Regions from separate parts of the Homo sapiens genome. Here region 1 is linked to region 2. Evidence: fine-mapped expression QTL. A gene starts in region 2. The other region holds a variant in brackets. All regions are shown on one strand. Distances are between the middles of the regions.

Region 1 (5,000 bases), 65 kb after region 2:
CCATGAGCATTAAAAAAGTTGTTTTACACCACTAAATTTTGGGGTAATTTGTTAAGTAGCCATACTAACTTCAAAAATCACACAAAGCCATTTATAAACATGTCTGAAATAAATATTTCAAAAAAATTTGTTTTCTTTTTTGGAGGATAGGCTACATAACTCTTACTTTACTCTCATGGTTACAATTATTTTAAGGACGAGGCTAGATTCCTTTTGCTAGTTAACCTATGGTATATGATTACTCAGATATATTTAGGTTAAATCCTGTCCCCTTCCATACATAAGTATAGTGTGATATATACCATAATTAGCCTCTAAGGCAGCTCTGACCTCTCTTCTGAGTTCCATACCTGTGTTTTGAGCTGCCTCTTTGCGTTCCCACTTGCATATTCTGCAGGTGAAATAACCTCACGGGTAAGAAAGCAAATTCATTTCCCCCAGCTCATATATGTTGCTGTAACAACATATGCATTGTCGGCCACGTAGTTTATACTAGAAGCCCACGGGAAACGTCGACCCTCACTTCCCCCATCCCCAATGCACAGGGACAGCTGTCACTGAGTCCCGCTGCCCCCTCTCTTGTTTGTCCATCTCCTCCCCGCTGCCCCTGACTCGTTCAGACTGAGTCCATCTCTTTTCTGCTACAATCTTCTCATTTGTCCCTGGGTCTCTTTCTCCTGGGTTCTTCTCCCTACAGGGTTACCAGAATTTTCTTCCCAGAACATAGATAGCTCTACCACTCCCTTGCTGAAAAGTGTTTCGTTTTGTTTACAGGATGAGAGTCCAAGCTGATTTGTATGCCATTCAGAACTCTTCCCAACTGGCACCCTGCTCACTTTTCCTTTCTTTTATTCTCTTTCATTCTTTTCTATTTTAAATTGATAGACTATTTTTAGAGCAGTTTTATGTTTACAGAAAAATGAACAGAAGGCACAGAGAGTTCCCAAACAGCCCCTTACCCTGCCCTCTAGTTTACCCTGCTAGTAACGTCTGGCATCAATGTGGTACATTCGCTACAACTGATGAGCCAATATTGACACAGTATATATATATATATATATTTTGTTTTTTGAGACAGAGTCTAGCTTTGTCGCCCAGGCTAGAGTGCAGTTGCACAATCTTGGCTCACTGCAACCTCCAGCTCTCGGGTTCAAGCGATGCTCTTGCTTCAGCCTCCCAAGTAGCTGGGATTACAGGTGCCCACCATCATGCCTGGCTAATTTTTGTATTTTTAGTAGAAACGGGGTTTCATCATGTTGGCCAGCCTGTCTTGAACTCCTGACCTCAAGTGATCCACCCGCCTCGGCCTCCCAAAGTGCTGGGATTATGGATGTGAGCCACCGAGCCCGGCCTGATACAGTATTATTAACTAAAGTTCATAGTTTATACTCTGTGTTGGATATCCTGTGGGTATACCTATATGTATAATGACAAGCCATTGTAGTATCATAGAGAATACTTTTACTGTCCTAGAGGTTCTGTGCTCCACCTATTCACCCACCCACCCTAGCCCCCAGAAATCACTGATCCTATTGTGTCCATACTTTTGCCTTTCGTAAAATGTCACATAGTTGGAATCATTCAGTGTGTAGCCTTTTCAGATTGGCTTTTTTAAACTTAGTAATGTGCATTTAAGGTTTCTTCCTGTCTTTTCCAAGCTTGATGACACATTTCTTTTTATCACTGAACAATATTCCATTTTCTGGATATACCAGGTTATTTATCCATTCACCCACTGAAGGACATCTTAGTTGATTCTAAAGTTTGGCAGTTATGAACATAGCTGCTATAAATATTTGTGTGCAGTCTTTTGTGTAGACATAAGTTTTTAACTCATTTGGCTAAAGACATTTTAAAATGTAATTTTTCATTTTGAATAGGTAATCATATATTTATGTGGTTCAAAGATTGAATGATATTTAAAAGGTTCACAGTAAGAAGTCTTCCTCCCTTGTCTCCATCCTGTATAACTCTTATTAATTTCATGCATATCCTTCAAGTATTTTATGCAAATCCAAAAAAACTGAATATCAGGCCTTATTTTCTATTGTTTTGTGTGAATGCAGCACATTATGTATACTACTATTAAACATGATTTTTTAATATATAACTTTGAACTTACAGAAAAGTTCTGCACTTTCCTATTTTCACTTAACATTTTCTAAAGATTTTTCTATAGAGATTGTCCTTATTTTTTTCTTACAGCTACATAGTAATCCATTGTGGAGATGTACCATAGTTCATTTAATTAGTGCTCTATTGGTAGATGCTTGGACTCCTTCCAGTATTTTGCTAGTCCAGAAAGTGCAGCTGTGGAGAACCTTGTACATAAGTCATTTTGTGCATGTGTAGATACCATTGGATGTACTTCCAAATGTAGCATCATTGGGTCATAGGGTAAAGCTTTTATAAGAATTGACCTCCGTAAGGGTTATACAATTTCCTGCTTACTTTTCTATTCTCATTGTTAGCTCTGCCCTCTCAGCTTGTACCCTAGGCCCCAGCTACACTGAACTGCTTGCCTTTTCTTGAACAAATAACACACTTGCATTTTTCTGTGCTTTTGCTCTTTCTGTCCTTTGCTGAGAAGATCCTTCTTCTCCCCTCCTCTCATCTACTTGGTAGACTCCTGTTTATCCTTCCAGGCCTCAACACCAATATCCACTCCTCCCTTTAGCCTGATACTCCTCTATGCATGTCAATTGAAATTTACAACCACCTGAAACTAGGAGGATGAGTTCTGGCCCAGGAGAGAGGGGTCCTAGGTTCGTGTTTTGCCTCTCCCTTTATAGTGTCTTGGGCCTTTGAGCCTCTCTGAAACTCAGTTTCTTTATTTGCCAGATAGAGATCATAATACCCCCTCTGCCTGCATTACAGGCTTTAGTGAGACACACGTGAGCTGATGCATGAAAGCACTTTGTAAAGCTTTAAGGAGAACATTGTGAAGAAGGATTTTTTTTTTTTTTTTAAAGAATTGACTAATGAGAATTGCTGTGACTCCGGGTCTCAGTTCCAAAACT[G/A]TCTTTGGCACATCACATACTACTGAATCTGCTTTTCAAACTTACTCTTACCCCTTTAGTTCCCTTACAGTTACATCTGTCTCCATCTCCTATACTTGTACCAAGTACAGAATGATGGGTTCTTTCCATATTTAGGTCTAGGAGCCACAATTACTATCATGTAACTTTTATACAAGCAACTATTAAAATACAGACTTTTTTAAACTATGAAGAGTAAGAACTTTTCATAAAAACCCATCTATTCCTCAGCCATTTCATGACATTTTATGTTATTTTATGTTATTTTATTTTATTTTATTTTATGTTTGAGACAGTCTCACTCTGTCACCCAGGCTGGAGTGCAGTGGCATGATCTCAGCTCACTGCAACCTCTGCCTCCTGGGTTCAAGCAATTCTCCTGCCTCAGCCTCCCAAGTAGCTGGGATTACAGGCATGTGCCACCATAGCCGGCTAATTTTCGTATTTTTGGTAGAGACAGAGTTTCATCATGTTGGCCAGGCTGGTCTCAAAACTCCTGAGCTCAAGTGATCCACCCACCTTGGCTTCCCAAAGTGTTGGGATTACAGGCGTGAGCCACCATGCCTGGCCCATTTCATGACATTTTAAACATGTGTCCTGAGGTTTCCCTAGAAACCTCATACTTGAGTGTTGAGGTCCCAGGAAATCATTTTCTGAGAATATAACCCTCTATTATATAATTTATTATATAATAATTTAATTATATATAAACAATTATCTAATAATTATATAATTTAATTACATATACATAATTATATTTAATAATTGTATAATTTAATTATATGTAAATAATTATATTATTTAATAATTACAGTGTTTAATAATTATATGAAACTAATTATATACTAGGTGGTTATATTCTCAGAAAATGATTTCCTGGGACCTCAACACTCTCAAGTATGAGGTTTCTAGGGCAACCTCTGGACACATGCAAAAACCATGGAAAAAGTCGTGTGGACTCCTCATTCATCCACTCACCCACCTGCCAACTGATCCCCCTTTCCAGGCGGTTCTCCCTTCAACTTGTCCACTTAGCCTCTCTCCATCTTCTTGTCAGTCAGTCCCATCCAGCCATCATCTCCATATGTCAAGTTCACTGTATTTAAGACTAGAAGAGTAAGAAATAAGATCCTCCAGTGGGGGGGTCAGCCCCCCGCCCGGCCAGCCGCTCCGTCCGGGAGGGAGGTGGGGGGGTCAGCCCCCTGCCCGGCCAGCCGCCCCATCCGGGAGGTGAGGGGCGCCTCTGCCCGGCGGCCCCTACTGGGAAGTGAAGAGCCCCTCTGCCCGGCCAGCCGCCCCGTCCGGGAGGTGAGGGGCGCCTCTGCCCGGCCGCCCCTACTGGGAAGTGAGGAGCCCCTCTGCCCGGCCACCACCCCGTCTGGGAGGTGTGCCCAACAGCTCACTGAGAACGGGCCAGGATGACAATGGCGGCTTTGTGGAATAGAAAGGCGGGAAAGGTGGGGAAAAGATTGAGAAATCGGATGGTTGCCGTGTCTGTGTAGAAAGAAGTAGACATGGGAGACTTTTCATTTTGTTCTGCACTAAGAAAAATTCTTCTGCCTTGGGATCCTGTTGATCTGTGACCTTACCCCCAACCCTGTGCTCTCTGAAACATGTGCTGTGTCCACTCAGGGTTAAATGGATTAAGGGCGGTGCAAGATGTGCTTTGTTAAACAGATGCTTGAAGGCAGCATGCTCGTTAAGAGTCATCACCACTCCCTAATCTCAAGTAATCAGGGACACAAACACCGCGGAAGGCCGCAGGGTCCTCTGCCTAGGAAAACCAGAGACCTTTGTTCACTTGTTTATCTGCTGACCTTCCCTCCACTATTGTCCCATGACCCTGCCAAATCCCCCTCTGTGAGAAACACCCAAGAATTATCAATAAAAAAATAAATTAAAAAAAAAAAAAAAAAGAAATAAGATCCTCCAGCACAGAGTTCCTCAGTTTCCAAAATTACA
Region 2 (5,530 bases):
CACAGTAGATGGTAAATGAAATTAACAACATCCCCTAAGGATTCAAAAGACCAAGTGATAAACTGATTTCCTAACTTCACTCAAATTTGACACAAGGCATCCCATATCAAGCTGTCAGCATGACAAATACACAAACCATACAGAGGCATGGGTTACGTACTACCTTTGGAGAAAAATTCAGAATGAACAAAAACTTGGATTGGGATTGTATGTATTTTAAAGTTAGTATGTGCAAACCTACAAGAAAAAAAAAGTTACTTTTTAAAACAAGCTTCAGAAAAAGAAAAAGTAACTTGTCACTAACACAACATGCTCACTTCCGAAGAACAAGTAGAAAAGTGGAGGGTGGAGGAAACAAGAATGCATGTGATCCTCCTAGGCTATTACCACTTCTTTCCCAAGTAAATTTATCTCCTAAAAGGAGAGAATATGCCGAACCATCATTCTATGTATATCTGGAAAATACCCAGTGGTGTGATGGGCTTCTATGAACAGTATGCCTACAAGGACGGGGCACGTGGGCTAAGGGAACAAGCAGCATCACGTAGAGACAGCTGTCTCTGGCAATGGCTCCAGTGCCCTCTTCTTCAGGGTTTCCACCCTAGCACCACTCACAGCATTAACTTCTCTTACTTTGGGAAGAAAAAAGTAGACTCTTTTCCAACAGAACAGATAGGAATCAAATAACAAAGATTCCAAAAGATCCTTCTAGAGAGTTCTGCTTTATTGAAGGATACACAAGGACAGTCAGCAACAACAACAGCAAAAGCATTTCACTACCAGGAAATAGTTACTGTATCAAGAGACTAAACTTTCTATATAGAAAGGAGAAGGAAAAGAGGGGGAAAAAACCCCACAAAACAACAAAAAAAGTTGGGGATGGGGAAGAATGGGAAAAAAAGAAGAATGTTGAAGATGAATGAAAAAAAGTGTGTGTAATGGAAAGGAGTGAAGGATCAGGAACTAAATTTTACTCAAGTATATGCATCTGAGAGCTTAGAGAGACCTCAGAAGGAAAACTGCCAGGTCGAGCCTCCTCCCCTTAGGTTAGCAGTGTTGATCAGCCTCTGTCATCCACCAAACCAAAGCCTAGCTTTGAGTTATTCTCATCTAATCTAATTGCAGACATCACTGAAGGTCCTTGACGCAAACAAGAAAAACCTCTTCTCATTTAGTCTCTATTAATGATTACAGAAAAAAAATAAACAGGTGAACTCACTGCTAATTACACTAAGCAAAGGGAAGAGATTCTGGGTACGCCCAATAGGGGCACCTTTGGCTGTGCTGTGTGACCTCCTCGAAGTTACTATGTATGCCAACTGATCCTCCCACACACACCCATTCTTAAAACACCCGGCGCATTACCATACTACAACCTTTTAAAAACTATCCCACAAAAGAAAGAAAACGTCTCTCACCCACTCTAAGGGATACTGGGAACATTTCTGCTTTCAAACACACTGCCTTTAAAATTTTAAAGACCTAATTCATTTTCTGTGATAAAAAGTTTACTTCCAAAAAAGTGGCTAGCACAGTTTCCAGCATATAGTAGGCTTGTATTAAATACTAGTTGCACACATGACAAAAATGATCGTTCTGAATAATTTTCACAGCTGTAGAACAGTTACAACCTTCTCAAGATATGAAGCTTTTACCTCCACAAACTAGAAAAAAAGGGCGGGGACTATTTTAAAGCCAATCTGTAAGGCACGGCAAGAAAGTTGCAAATATTTGCATTCATTTAACGGTAATTTCTGAGTCTGTAAAACAAAAGGAAATGCTCAACGAGAAAATAAAAAACCTTGTGCAGAGCTTTGAAACTGTGGAGTTGGGACTCTTGACACCCTGGTGTGCACGCAGATGACTCTGAAGGTGACAAAGGGAAAGTGTTTGCACTGAGGACTTTGATAAAGGATCTTTCCGCTGTGGAATTCCAGGTTACTGCTGGCATTCTTTTGAAACCTTCCAACCTAGCTGCGAGCCAAGGGAGTACGGTTCCTTCGCCAAAATTCAAGAGATTCCCAGAGAACCCCACGGCGGGGCGTCTGCGCCTTCCTCCCGCTGACATCAAGAGCACCGTGCCTTTCAAGTCACCCAAAATCTCAGTCTTTGTAGCCTTCCTTGAAGCGAAAGGGCAGCCACAGCTCTTAACCAACCCCAAGAGAGGGCCGTGTCGTCCTGCACGGCGACACGGTCCCGTGAGAGAACTGCTTTGGGAAATACTCCCGCTCCGCGCTGGCCTCAGGAAAGGGCCGTGACCCCCTCCCTAAGACGGGTCCAGACACCGCCCTCCAGCCGCGCAGACAAAGGACCGGCCCCCGGCGCGCCCCCGGCCCGGCACGGCCACTCACCGCTCAGATAGTTGGTCCACTTGTACAGCACCCCCTCCATGGCGCCCGCGGCCACTCGGCCCACGCCCGCCGGCCCCCTCACTGCCCCAGGCCCCAAGAGGCGAGGAGCACCAGCAGCAGGGCCATCGCCTGGCGCTGCCCAGACGCCCACTCCCGGCGCCCGGGCCCGGTGTGGGGACGCCCGGCCCGCCTCACATCCTCGGCCCGGGGGCGGGGTCACTGCGGCGGCCTCGGCGCTTGAAGCCCAGCCAGCCGGTGAACCCGTGGGGCGAAGCCGGCACGCTGTTCACAAGGAGGCCCGGGTCCGGGCCCTACGTGGGTCGGAGGGGCAGCCGAAGCCTCCAAAGTGCGGCGAACGAGCTGCCGGTCGCAGGCGGCGCCACGGCGCACCACCTGAACCCTCGACTCGCCGGGCCCGGGACGCGCTCGCGCATGCCCAGGGCGCCGCTCGCGCGCCCCTTCCCAAAATCCACTCCGGGATTTCGCGGCAGCGGCGGCGGGGCGGAGTTTGCGGGAACGGCCCGCAGGGAAATTGAGTCCCGAGACGCGGACTGCGGACTAGGCGACGGGAGGAGGGAGGCCCCTGAGACAAGTGTGGAGCGCAGTTCTGACTGTAAATGGTGCCCGCCGTTTGAGGGTCTACGTGACCTCTCACGATACCTCCTGAGTTCTAGTCCCTATTCTTGTTCCAAAGCTGCCTAATTGATCTCACACACTTGAGGTAACCAATAACAGGGCGTAAAGAGATTATTGGAATTTCAGGGTAGAATACTATGAGGCCAGTGTAAACAGATGTTGTCCAGACTCTAAGGTCTCACTATGGAAGTGTTGATCTACTGACCCGGAGCACTGACATCACCTAAGAGCTTGTTAGAAATGCAGAATCTTGCACCCACCCCAGACCTCCAGATCAAAATCTGCATTTTAAACAAGATCTTCAGGGGGATTCCTATGCACATAGAGTGCGGATATGCACTGTGTTAAGGTTATTAGACCAGAAAAAATGTTAACTACAGATTAAGTGGAAAGAGGAGGTGAGAAAAGACTACAATACGATTTAAATCGCTTTAAGTATATGTCACAGAAGCATGCACCAAAATATTAAGAGGATTGTTTGCGGCTGGTGGTGGTATCGGCGAGCTTTCTTTTTCTTTAAAGTTGCCTGATTTAGTAAATAAAAATGCAAAACCATTATTCGTTATGTATCTGAAATTCCAACTTGATTCGACTCCCCAATATTATCTGGAAATCTTACTTTAGTGCTTTCCAATTTCTTCCAAAATGACTTCAATGAACATGCATTACTTTTGAACTTAGGCAAAAAATGTAAAACTAGAAAATGTAAACTACGATGAGGCTGTGTAATTCGTAACCATGATTACCATTTCTTCTTTAAAGCGGAAGTCTGCAAGTCGAAACTCATTATTTACCCTGTAAGGTAACTTAAGGGATAAATTATTAGCAGCCATAACATGACGTGGTGCTGTGGAATGAATCAGACCTGGTTTGAAGGCAGAGCTCATTTGCTTCGGGGCCAAACAACCTTAAGCAGGACAGTTAATATCTCCTGGTGTAAATTTACTTCTCTTTTAAATGGGAAAAAAGAACCTGCCTTACTGGGTGTAGTGAGGTTCATGCAACGGGAACGCGCTTTGTGAACCCTCAAGCAGTATGTCAGTCTTTACAGTTTATAAGCAATAGCAAAATCCTAGGATTGTGGCATCTTGGGGGGCCGCTCTCCAACGGCGAGAGTAAACGAGTCTTTCCTGGAACCCCGAAGATTTCATAGGGCCCCGGGACTCTTCCTACGTCTCTCAGCAGGGTTCTTCACAGAGATAAATCAGCCGGAGGAGTTTCCGGTTGGCTCTGCGCCCCGCCCCTCTCCCAAAATCCACGCTGGTTGAATGCTGAAATCCACCGGGCTCTAGGACCACAAGGGATGATCCGCCGCTTGGCAGCTGCCCGGCTCTACCGGGCTGTAAATTCCATCGTTGCAGCGTCATTGGCTTGAGAGCTGCCTGAAGGACAGCACCAATAGCCAATGGGAGGCTGCTATTCCCAGGCGGCCGCGTTATAAGAGCCAGTCAGGCCGGCATTTGGGCTTAACTCTTTAAAGGTAGGTTCGTGACCCTTGAGAAAAGAGTTGGTGGTAAATGTGCCACGTCTTCTAAGAAGGGGGAGTCCTGAACTTGTCTGAAGCCCTTGTCCGTAAGCCTTGAACTACGTTCTTAAATCTATGAAGTCGAGGGACCTTTCGCTGCTTTTGTAGGGACTTCTTTCCTTGCTTCAGCAACATGAGGCTTTTCTTGTGGAACGCGGTCTTGACTCTGTTCGTCACTTCTTTGATTGGGGCTTTGATCCCTGAACCAGAAGTGAAAATTGAAGTTCTCCAGAAGCCATTCATCTGCCATCGCAAGACCAAAGGAGGGGATTTGATGTTGGTCCACTATGAAGGCTACTTAGAAAAGGACGGCTCCTTATTTCACTCCACGTAAGTAATTATGCCCCGCAGGTAAAATAGTAATTAAGAATCCACTCACTTATGCCAGCTCTCCAGCAGGAAAGGTGGCCTGTACCTGGTTTTGCCTCTTTTACAAAACCGAAATATCTTATTTCCTTCTTTGGGAAAGGAAATTGTTTAAAGCCAGTTTTATATAGCGAGCGAGGCCTTTGAAGGTCTTGTTGGAAACATGTGGTCTGGAAAAGGCTGTTAATTTTTTTTATTATACAAATTAGAACTAGAATCTTTGAAATATTGCAGAAATATATCTGGGTGTATAATTGGCCAATAAGTAGAAAAAGCCCAAAAGAATTCTCATATCTCAAACTCCATTTCTTAAAGAAAATGACTTGATTCCATTTTTAATGTGGTGTAGGTGATGTTCACCTAAAACTTTTCACAGCGACTTCAAAAGCAAACTACACTATCACTTATTTGCCTGTTGAAGGATATACTAATGCCGTTTCACTGACCTACTTCTTTTGTTCTGACGAATGGTATTTTGGTCAAGGCACAGGACCATGATTTCAGTCATTTGCTTCTTTCTAGAGAGTCAGACTTCATTGATGAGGTGGGTGTGGTTTTGGAAGTCTAGGTGAAGGATTTTCAGGTGGTTACACTATCATTTCTGTTCTATAAACGAAGAAATTGGAACATGGAAATGGTTTACAGCCTAATG

Direction of the effects. Positions count from the first base shown, and alleles are read on the strand shown. Sizes are in standard deviations (SD) of each study's normalised expression.
For the expression in naive CD8 T cells of the gene that starts at base 2,742 in region 2, A is the high allele of the variant in region 1 and G is the other (large effect, 1.0 SD a copy in Schmiedel 2018).

Evidence for each region. PIP is the estimated chance that this variant, and not a neighbour inherited with it, causes the effect.
Region 1: its variant is the best candidate, but not a certain one, in a credible set for the expression of PLEKHA8 in naive CD8 T cells (Schmiedel 2018, PIP 0.57).

Annotation. Positions count from the first base shown.
Region 1 is chr7:29,961,013-29,966,012 of GRCh38, reverse strand. All of the region lies in intron 2 of SCRN1 (secernin 1), which reads left to right. Among named protein-coding and RNA genes, the nearest start is that of FKBP14-AS1, 25 kb to the left of the region's middle. RefSeq lists an enhancer at 4,559-5,000. The variant G/A (reference allele first, on the strand shown) is at 3,021.
Region 2 is chr7:30,025,624-30,031,153 of GRCh38, reverse strand. It overlaps PLEKHA8 (pleckstrin homology domain containing A8), which reads right to left and starts at 2,742. Exons shown (of 14, transcript NM_001197026.2): 1 at 2,352-2,742. The coding sequence starts at 2,391. It overlaps FKBP14 (FKBP prolyl isomerase 14), which reads left to right and starts at 4,452. Exons shown (of 4, transcript NM_017946.4): 1 at 4,452-4,842. The coding sequence starts at 4,646. It overlaps FKBP14-AS1 (FKBP14 antisense RNA 1), which reads right to left. Exons shown (of 3, transcript NR_187577.1): 3 at 3,913-5,530. RefSeq lists enhancers at 2,021-2,140, 4,047-4,196 and a silencer at 2,301-2,630.